Regions from separate parts of the Homo sapiens genome. Here region 2 is linked to region 1. Evidence: fine-mapped expression QTL. A gene starts in region 1. The other region holds a variant in brackets. All regions are shown on one strand. Distances are from middle to middle.

Region 1 (5,369 bases):
GACACTCTTTCCATCTGGAATGGGAATGTGCTGGTTTCTCTTGCTCTCTGCCAGCACCTGCGTTGGTTGTTTAGAATGGGACCTACCCCTCAGCTTCTTTATGGAGAGGGGATGGGGAAGGGGGACAGGCAGACCTCAGGGCTGGGAATGCAGTGTAGGCCCAATTTGGTCACTGGTTGGCTTCACAGTTACTTTCTCCTGAAAGGGCCTCAGTTTTCCTATCCATACAGCAAGAGGCTTATGTGGTCTCTGTGGTCCCTTCTAGCTATGATACATTCTAGGATTTGCAATGAGTAATTTCAGAAACTACTCATTGGAGGGGAAAACAACTCCTGATTTCCTAAACCACCTCATAGTTTGTAAAACACTTTCCAATTCCTTATGCTTTTCATTCTCCTGGCAACCCTGGAAGGGGCCAGGGCAAGGTCTGTGTGCCCATTTGAAACTAAGGGTGAGAAGCATCCTCAGGAGCTGTGATTTGAGGCTGCACCACTCATTTTGATTATGCTGGTACACCAGTTTGCTTTCAAATGTGAGTATGCATAAAAATAACCTGGAAGCTTGGTGAGGTGGCAGTCACCTGGAGTACCAGCTATGCTGGAGGCTGAGGCGGGAGGATCTCTTGAGCCCAGGGGTTTGAGACTACCCTGGGCAACATAGTGAGACCTCGTCTATATAAAATAAATAGGAAAAAAAAAATAAGATACTGGCTTTTCTAATTCCCTAAGTGTCAAAAAAAAAAAAAGAAAAAGAATAACAAATATCACCTGGAAAGGGGACATGGCATTGTTAAAATGCAGATTCTTGGGCACCTAGAGATTTTAAATTGGCAGGGCCAGGGTGGGCCCAAAATTAGCAAGTGACCACGTGGTTCTGAAGCCAGTGGCCTAAGGACCACCCTTGCAGAACCGTGGTCTCCTTGTCACAGTCTAGGCAGCCTCTGGCTTAGCCTCTGTTTCTTTCATAACCTTTCTCAGCGCCTGCTCTGGGCCAGACCAGTGTTGGGAGGAGTCGCTACTGAGCTCCTAGATTGGCAGGGGAGGCAGATGGAGAAAAGGAGTGTGTGTGGTCAGCATTGGAGCAGAGGCAGCAGTGGGCAATAGAGGAAGTGAGTAAATCCTTGGGAGGGCTCCCTAGAAGTGATGTGTTTTCTTTTTTTGTTTTAGAGACAGGATCTCGCTCTGTCGCCCAGGCTGGTGTGCAGTGGCATGATCATAGCTCACTGCAGCCTCGACTTCTCGGGCTCAAGCAATCCTCCCACCTCAGCCTCCCAAGTAGCTGGGACTACGGGCACACGCCACCATGCCTGGCTAATTTTTGTATTTTTTGTAGAGATGGGTCTTCACCATGTTGATCAGGCTGGTCTCGAACTCCTGGGCTCATGCGATCCACCCCGCCAGCTGATTACAGGGATTCCGGTGGTGAGCCACCGCGCCCAGACGCCACTTCATCGTATTGTAAACGTCTGTTACCTTTCTGTTCCCCTGTCTACTGGACTGTGAGCTCCTTAGGGCCACGAATTGAGGATGGGGCACAGAGCAAGCTCTCCAAACGTTTGTTGAATGAGTGAGGGAATGAATGAGTTCAAGCAGATGCTATACGTTGGCTGTTGGAGATTTTGGCTAAAATGGGACTTGCAGGAAAGCCCGACGTCCCCCTCGCCATTTCCAGGCACCGCTCTTCAGCTTGGGCTCTGGGTGAGCGGGATAGGGCTGGGTGCAGGATTAGGATAATGTCATGGGTGAGGCAAGTTGAGGATGGAAGAGGTGGCTGATGGCTGGGCTGTGGAACTGATGATCCTGAAAAGAAGAGGGGACAGTCTCTGGAAATCTAAGCTGAGGCTGTTGGGGGCTACAGGTTGAGGGTCACGTGCAGAAGAGAGGCTCTGTTCTGAACCTGCACTATAGAAAGGTCAGTGGGATGCGGGAGCGTCGGGGCGGGGCGGGGCCTATGTTCCGGTGTCCCCACGCCTCCAGCAGGGGACGCCCGGGCTGGGGGCGGGGAGTCACACCGCGCCTGGTACCATCCGGACAAAGCCTGCGCGCGCCCCGCCCCGCCATTGGCCGTACCGCCCCGCGCCGCCGCCCCATCCCGCCCCTCGCCGCCGGGTCCGGCGCGTTAAAGCCAATAGGAACCGCCGCCGTTGTTCCCGTCACGGCCGGGGCAGCCAATTGTGGCGGCGCTCGGCGGCTCGTGGCTCTTTCGCGGCAAAAAGGATTTGGCGCGTAAAAGTGGCCGGGACTTTGCAGGCAGCGGCGGCCGGGGGCGGAGCGGGATCGAGCCCTCGCCGAGGCCTGCCGCCATGGGCCCGCGCCGCCGCCGCCGCCTGTCACCCGGGCCGCGCGGGCCGTGAGCGTCATGGCCTTGGCCGGGGCCCCTGCGGGCGGCCCATGCGCGCCGGCGCTGGAGGCCCTGCTCGGGGCCGGCGCGCTGCGGCTGCTCGACTCCTCGCAGATCGTCATCATCTCCGCCGCGCAGGACGCCAGCGCCCCGCCGGCTCCCACCGGCCCCGCGGCGCCCGCCGCCGGCCCCTGCGACCCTGACCTGCTGCTCTTCGCCACACCGCAGGCGCCCCGGCCCACACCCAGTGCGCCGCGGCCCGCGCTCGGCCGCCCGCCGGTACGGACCCCAGGGACGCCGCGCCGACAGCGCCGCCTGTGCCCCCCGCGCAGACCCGGGAGGGCGCCGTGTTTGGCCTGGAGGCGGCAGGGGGCGGGGGAGGGGTTGACTGAGGCGCCCAGGCTGGGCGGTGCAGAGCCGGGGTTGGGCCTCCGGGCCCCGCCCTGGGGTGCGGGGTGACCTCGGGCCGGTCCCTGTTTGCTGCTCTGTGCTCTGCGCCTCAGCTTCCTCACCGGAGCCTCCCCAGCGTCGGACTCAGTGATAATAATAGCCCACGTGTATTCAACTGGCGTTTACTGCATGCCAGGCCTTTGGGCGACTTCAAGCCAGCTAAAACTCACAACCCCGCTGTGAGCTGTGTTGTCACTGTGCCCATCTGACGGAGGAGGAACTGAGGCCCAGAGAGGGAAAGTGACTTGCCCCTGGTCACACGGCTGCAGGTGGTGGGGCTGGGATTTGAACTGAGGCCTGCTGGCTTCAGCTCAGAATTTGCATCTCGGTAGTGAGCACAGCTGCTAGGGGAAGTGAAGGCGGGGCGGAGGAAAGTCCTGGGGCCTAACCGTTGGTGAGCCATTGAGGAGACCCTCCTTCCTGCCTCGATGCTGACTGCCAGGTGCAGGCCTGGCCGGCCAGGCCTCTGGGGACAGCCCTCCTGGCTGGGAGGCCTTCTCTGCAGGGGCGGGGCAGCTGGACCAGCTGCTGATCCCCTCCCTCTGCCTGTCCTTCCATCTGCCACCCTCCACCCTCCCAGGCCCTGGTTGCCATGGAACCTCATTAATCAGGCAGGCCGACCCCTGAGTCTCTGTAGAAGGACTAGGTGGGCTGGGCCTCTGGGAGCTGGAGAGGAGGCCCCCAGTGCCAGGAGAGAAAATGTCTCAGGGAGATCCTTTAATAAAGCCCTCCCTGATCGCTGAGCTCAAGACGAATTCAGACTGGAGGGCCCAGAAGAGGCGGCTGAATTCCAGTGGGAGAAGGGATTGGAGGCGTAGAAGCCTGGAGCTGGGAACTGTGGGGCACAGGGCAGGGTGTGGAGACCAGTTTGACTGGCGCAGCCTATGGGTGAAGGTGGGGCTCTGGTGTGCAGGCGGGGTCTGGCCAGGCAGGATGGGGTCTCAGCAGGGAACTTGGAGCAAGTGGGAGGGGTGAGGCAGGACTCAGGACAAGGAGGTAGAAGCTGCCTAACTGCTGATGGGGGTGTGGGTGGCAGCTGGTCCCTGAGGCATCCTGAGGAGGCTCCCCCAACCCCCTTGGCCCCATGCCCAGTGCTGCCTTCCGGAATCACCACAATGCTAATAATAATAACAATAGCAGCCACCATTGTTTTGAGGATGTCTTGTGTGCCAGGCTCTGTGCCAAGCGCTTTACTTAATTAACTCATTTAACCCCATCAGCAGCAGTCCCTTTTTACAGATTGGGAAGCTGAGGCCTAGAGATGTTAGAATCTTCCCATGTCATTCTGCTCTTGAGTGGGGAGAGCAGTCTGCGTTTCCTCTGAGGTTGACCTCTGGGATGCCTTGCTTTCTGGGGATGCTGATACAGGTTGAAGAAAGGGCAAGAAGGGCTTTTAGGGGCCCTCCCTCTTAATGAGTGGGTGGGAGGGGGTTGTACCAGGGGTGGGCCAGGTGGCCTGTCTCCTGTACTCCAGGGGCCTGTTCCTGTGGGTACCACTTGGGACCTGGGCAAGCATCTTCCATTCAGCTGTGTGACAAGCATTATAGAAGGCTCAGGTCTGCGGAAATCTAACAACCTGAGGGTCTTGTCCTCAAAGATCTGAACAGGATTATGGGTTCTAGGATCAAAGGGAGGGACAGGGGCAAAGAAAAATGCCCTCCACTCCACCTGTCAGGGGCAGGCTCATTGGCCTGGGCATTCCATTCATTCAACAGTTGTTGAGTTAGTGAATGCCCAGGAGGCACTAGGCCCAGAGACAAGGAGCCCTGGCCCCCAGTGTACTTAAGGGCCAGGAGGCTGGCACCATTCTGGAACTGAAGTCCAGAAAGTCCACAGGTTTGGCTTTTGGCCTCTCTGCACTGGCATTTGTCTGGCACAGTCCTTGAAATAAGCTACAGGCTTAGCTTCTATACCAGCAGGCATTCTGTATACAAGGCTCTGCAATTCAGCCATTCCTCTTGGCCCTGCCTGTCCACTTCCACAAACTCAAGTATTATAACTATAATACATGTTTAATGTAGAAAACTTAACTTTTTTATTTATTTATTTATTTTTTTTTTGGAGACAGGGTCTCATTCTGTTACCCAGGCTGGAGTGCAGTGGCGTGATTGCGGCTCACTGCAACCTCTGCCTCCCAAGTTCAAGCTATTCTGTGCCTCAGCCTCCCGAGTAGCTGGGATTACAGGCGTGTACCACCATGCCCAGCCAATTTTTGTATTTTTAGTAGAGAGAGGGTCTTGCCATGTTGCCCAGGCTGGTCTTGAACTCCTGAGTTCAGACAATCTGACTGTCTCAGCCTCTCAAAGTGCTGGGATTACAGGTGTGAGTCACCATGCCCAGCTGAAAACTTAACTCTTAACTCTTTTTTTTTTTTTTTTTTTTGAGATGAAGTCTCGCTCTGTCACCTAGGTTGGAGTACAGTGGCGCCATCTCGGCTCACCGCAACCTCTACCTCCTGGGTTCAAGCGATTCTTCTGCCTCAGCCTCCCGAGTAGCTGGGACTACAGACGTGCACCACCATACCCGGCTAATTTTTGTATTTTTGGTAGAGATGAGGTTTCACCATATTGGTCAGGCTG
Region 2 (5,369 bases), 86 kb before region 1:
CACTGCAACCTCCACCTCCCGAGTTTGAGCGATTCTCCTGCCTCAGGCTCCGGAGTGGCTGGGACTACAGGAGTGTGCCACCACACCCAGCTAATTTTTTTTTTTTTTTTTTTTTTTTTAGTAGAGACAGGGTTTCACTGTGTTGGCCAGGCTGGTCTCAAACTCCTGACCTCAAGTGATCTGCCCTCCTCGGACTCCCAAAGTGCTGGGATTACAAGAGTGAGCCACTGCACCCAGCCAAATCTTATTTTTTAAAAGGAAATATTAAACATACAGTAAAGATATAGTGGCATGACTAAAAGTCATTTGAGAGGTTTGGGGAAAGTACACATAGGCAGGCCAAGGCAATGTGGCTGACAGGGAACAGAAACCAGAATGACAGGGCTTGGACTTCTAAAGATATGATGAAGCCACCACAGCCACTCAAATGTCACTATGAGACAGAATCAACTCTCATGGTGTATAAGTCACTGTTATTTGAGGTTTCTACTGCATGCAGCCAAACTTCTACTTAAATAACACAAATAATAATAATTGTAGCAATAACATTTATTGAGTACCTACTATGTTCCAGGTACCATGTCTAAGAGCCTCAGCCTTGTCTTACTTGATCCTTATAAATAATCCAGTAGGGCAGGCACTACTGTGATCCCCATTTCACAGAGGAGAAAACCGAGGCTCAGAGTGGCTGAATACCTTGCCCAAGGTCATCCACTGGATTTGCAGTCAAGACAGGATTTAAGCACAGGCCAATGGCTCCAGAACCCTTATCACTACCCATGACACCATTCCACCTTCAGGCCATCCAAATGGGGGCCTGGCTCATTGGGCCTTACTTTTGGGACAGGACAACAGCTCCAATGTCTACAAAGGGCCACTGGCACTATGACCCTGCAAGGGGACTGCACAGGGTCATCAGCATCGGGCTCAATCTTCAACCTGCAAACTCCAAGACCAGGGCTATGAGGCTTCCAAGATCTCACACTAGGGTTCGAATCTAAACTCTGCTGATGTTGTTACTCTGGTGGGCAGGTCACTTCTCTTTGAACCTCAGTGTCTTCATCTTCAAAATGGGGAGAATATCACCTACCTCCCAGGGCTGCAGGGATTCATGTCACTAAAGGCAAAGCTTGGCACAGAGCAGGTGCTTCCTTCCCTTTACTTGGCATCTCACTCCAGAGTCACACAGCCACAGGAACTCACAGATAATCCACAAATCAGAAGGGCAAGAGCCAAAGAAAATTTATCAAGTGCAAACGGGAATAAGTCATCACTGCCAGAAATCTCTGCCCCTTGGCTGGCCAAAGCTTTGCCCAGCTTCCCTGCCTCTCTTGCCCCATTTCCCAGAGTCTTGGGGGCAAGTTACCCTACACCCCATTTCTTGAGTTCTAGCTCCTCTGCCAACTTCTCAGAGCTCTTGTGATTTCTACGTGGCCCTTCATGCCTTGGCCCCACTTTTTCCCATAGGCCCCATCTAAACATCTCCCTCCCGCTTCCACTCCACATAACAGTCATTCTATTAATACATCACTTGCTGTTGTATTTTAAACTTGCGGTTCCTCCTGATAGGAACACACTCCATCCATTGTCTACCTGGCAAACTCCTATTCATCCTTCAAAACTCAGTTCAGATGTCACTGCTCTTGGGACAGCTTCTCTAGCCTGCCTCCCCTGTGGTATCTCTATACCTTATAAACATATATGATAGCATTTTATCAAGTGATAGGGTGCATTTGTTTACACACCAGTCACCCTGAGCAGCCCATGCATTTTAAGCTCAAGGTATTTACTTATCTCTGAACCCCAGAAGCTTCACCCAGGAGTTACAGGGGCCTCATTAACAGAAACACCAAATCTCTGCAGGTACAAGTTTGTACAGAGAAGCAAAAACCACTGTAATGGGAAAATATTTGCTAATGAACTGGAAGGAGGCCCCACACAAACACCACTCCTGGCCTTTTGCTACTATCTACCCCCATGGGTTTTGTGAGGCAGGTGCTCCCAGATGATGCAGGCAAATGTACAGCAAAATGACTGCAGATGGGGGATTTCATGACATCATCAAAGTGATGTTGCACAACTGCAAATAACACCATCAACAAAGGAAGACCTGGCAAAACAGACCAGAAAACAACTGAGGCAGAGAAACTCAACAAGGA[T/C]GATCAGAGGTCAATAGGTCCAAAGAGAATGACGTGAAGATCTTTTTTTTTTTTTTTTTTTTTTTTTAAGACAAGCGTCTCTGTCGCTCAGGCTGAGTGCAGTGGCGCGATGATGGCTCACAGCAGCCTTAACCTCCTGGGCTCAAGCAATCCTACCATCTCAGCCTCCTGAGTAGCTGGGACTACGGGTGCGTGCCAACACACCTGGCTAATTTTTCTATTTTTGTTGAGACAAGGTCTTGCTATGTTGCCCAGACTGGTTTCAAACTCCTGGGCTCAAGCCATCCTCCCACCTCAGCCTCCCCAAATGCTAGGATTATAGGCGTGAGCCACTGTGCCCTGCTTTAACATGAAGATCTAAGGATAAAAAGCATGTTGCAAAACTGAGGAAACCTTTCATCATTTCTGCCAAAGGGACCCTCTTCATGACCACAATGGAAGACTGAAGTGATATAAATGATTATCAGAATAAATTACCCCAATAAAATCCATACCTGATCCATCCCTTGTTCATTCTAAGAATCATCATATAGGCTGGGCACAGTGGCTCACGCCTGTAATCCTAGCATTTTGGGAGGCTAAGGTGGGAGGATCACTTGAGTCCAGGAATTCAAGACCAGCCTGAGCAACATGGCGAAACCCCGTCTCTACAAAAAATACAAAAATTAGCTGGGCGTGGGGCACATGCCTGTTAGTCCCAGCTACTCAGGTGGCTGAGGTGGGAGGATCACCTGAGCCCGGGGAGGCTGCAGTGAGCTGTGATGGTGCCACTGGACTCCAACCTGGGCAACAGAGCAAAACCCCATCTCAAAGAAAAAAATAAAATAAAAATAGGAATCAGCATATAGCTTCAACTTTAACCTAGATCTTATAGATTATAAAACAAATGAATATTATTTTTATGATCTTTGCTTTTAAACATGTTACCGTTCATTTTATTGTATTTTATTTTTTTTGAGACGGAGTGTTGCTCTGTCGCCCAGGCTGGAGTGCAGTGACACGGTCTCAGCTCACTGCAAGCTCTGCCTCCCGGGTTCACGTCATTCTCCTGCCTCAGCCTCCCAAGTAGCTGGGACTACAGGCGCCCACCACCACGCCCGGCTAATTTTTTTTGTATTTTTAGTAGAGACGGGGTTTCACCGTGTTAGCCAGGATGGTCTCCATCTCCTGACCTCATCATCTGCCCGCCTCAGCCTCCCAAAGTGCTGGGATTACAGGTGTGAGCCACCACGCCCAGCCAACTGTTCATTTTAAAATGTATTTTATTTTGTAGAGATGGGGTCTCATTATGTTGCCAGGCTGGTCTCAAACTCCTGGCCTCCTTCTGCCTTGGCCTCCCAAAGTACTGGGGTTACAGATGTGGGCCGCCACACCCTGCCCATTCTTTTTTAATTGTTAAGAACCGGTGTACCGCTTTGACTGTAAGCTAAATTTTGTAGATTATGAGACAAAATAATACTGTCATAATTGTTTAGTTTGGAATAAAATGCTCAAACCTTTTCCCACTATGAACAAGGAAATATAGGTTCCTCTTTTTAAGGATTTTTTTTTGGGAAAAATGTCTGCCAAGACATAAGAATGATATAAGGAGAGCCAGCATCCTTTCTTCCACCAGTGCCAAAGCCCAGAACCCACTCTGCCAGGCTGGACCCCAGCCAGGAGCCTCGGTTTCTCCTTTCAAATATCTCACTGGTCCTAAGCAGTCAGAACCACCAAGGCCACAGGCCCTGGGCTCCCTGCCCACCCACCCGTCCACCCAGGGAGAGGGAAGCAGGAGGCACTTACTTGTAGACGGCATTGTCCTTCTTGGGGCTGTGCTGTGGCAGGAGGCTGTGGGAGTACTGGTGCACGCCCAGGTCGTACAGCGAGGGGAAGTCCTTGCCGCAGAGGTGGCAGCGGTAGCTCAGCTCCTCCTGGTGGCTCTTGATGTGCTCCAGAAATGTGTCGAGCTTTGGGAACGTCTGGGCACAGCTTTTGACCACACACTTGTACACCTTGAGGGAAGACGCTGGGCAGGTGACAGGAGGCAGGAGAGCTTCCTCCACTGCAGCCCCTGGCCTGTGGCATTGGCCTTGGACACTGATGGTAAATGATCTGACCACTGCTCCCTCTGCCCCCCTGCTGCTACTGGATCCCAGGGTTTTTATTCATTCATTCATTCATTTTTGAGACTGAGTCGCACTCTATCGCCCAGGCTGGAGTGCAGTGGTACAATCTCGGCTCACTGCAACCTCCACTTCACAGGTTCAAGCGATTCTCCTGCCTCAGCCTCCCCAGTAGCTGGGATTACAGGTGCACACCACCATGCCCAGCTAATTTTTGTATTTTTAGTAGAGACGGGGTTTCACCACATTGGCCAGGCTGGTCTCGAACTCCTGACCTCAAGTGATCCACCCGCCTTGGGCTCCCAAAGTGATGGGATTACAGGCATGAGCCACTGTGCCCAGCCCCTTGTTTTAACTTGATTAGAGGGTTCCCTCCTCTCAGCCAGTCGTGATGGCCCTATTACCCTTCCCTCAGGCTCTGTGTGGCATAGGTATATTTAGAAAAATTATTCAAGACCTGGAAATACAGTGAAAAGATGACAGTGTATACCCTTTCAATGTCATACTGGAATACCGGCTCTCAAACTGGAGCAGGCCTCAGAATTACAGGTTGCTGAGGGCTGTGCCCCCGCCACCCCTCCCACTGCCCCCCCCCCCACCACCACCCCTTCACCCCCTCCCTGGCCCTGAGAAATCTGACTTAGTGGGTCTGAATATGTGCATCACTAACGAGAAATCCTCAGGGGATGCTGGTGCTGCTGGCCTGGGACTTTGAGAACTGCTGTCTAAGGAGCCTGCCTATAGCCGGCCCACAGTCATCACACTCTCTACAGGATGTGGCTACTTCTGACTACTTTCCATTGACTAGGACTCTACAGTTAAATGTTAATTTGTTAATTTGTAAAAAACTAATCCAACGTAATTGATTTTTGTCAGATAGAGAAGATAACCCCAAAGGTCACAGGTTTTGTTGTCTTGCAGGACATTAACCAGATTTGTATGTAATTTGACAATCTGACTTCAGTATCTCTTTTTTTCATTGACAGTTATTAGGCATAGCTATCCATGGCCTCTGTTGAACAGGCTTTGTCTTCCTTTGGGTTTCCTCACTAATGAGTTAAGTAAAATTCTGACTCACTTTCAGGCCTCATTTGTATGAGAAGTA

What was found.
Region 2: its variant is fine-mapped to the expression of E2F1 in whole blood (TOPMed, PIP above 0.99).

The regions. Positions count from the first base shown.
Region 1 is chr20:33,683,254-33,688,622 of GRCh38, reverse strand. E2F1 (E2F transcription factor 1) reads left to right here and starts at 2,238. Exons shown (of 7, transcript NM_005225.3): 1 at 2,238-2,619. The coding sequence starts at 2,359. RefSeq lists silencers at 1,899-2,398, 2,509-2,868.
Region 2 is chr20:33,768,868-33,774,236 of GRCh38, reverse strand. It overlaps ZNF341 (zinc finger protein 341), which reads right to left. Exons shown (of 15, transcript NM_001282933.2): 10 at 3,945-4,153. Among named protein-coding and RNA genes, the nearest start is that of ZNF341-AS1, 40 kb to the left of the region's middle. RefSeq lists an enhancer at 656-725. The variant T/C (reference allele first, on the strand shown) is at 2,160.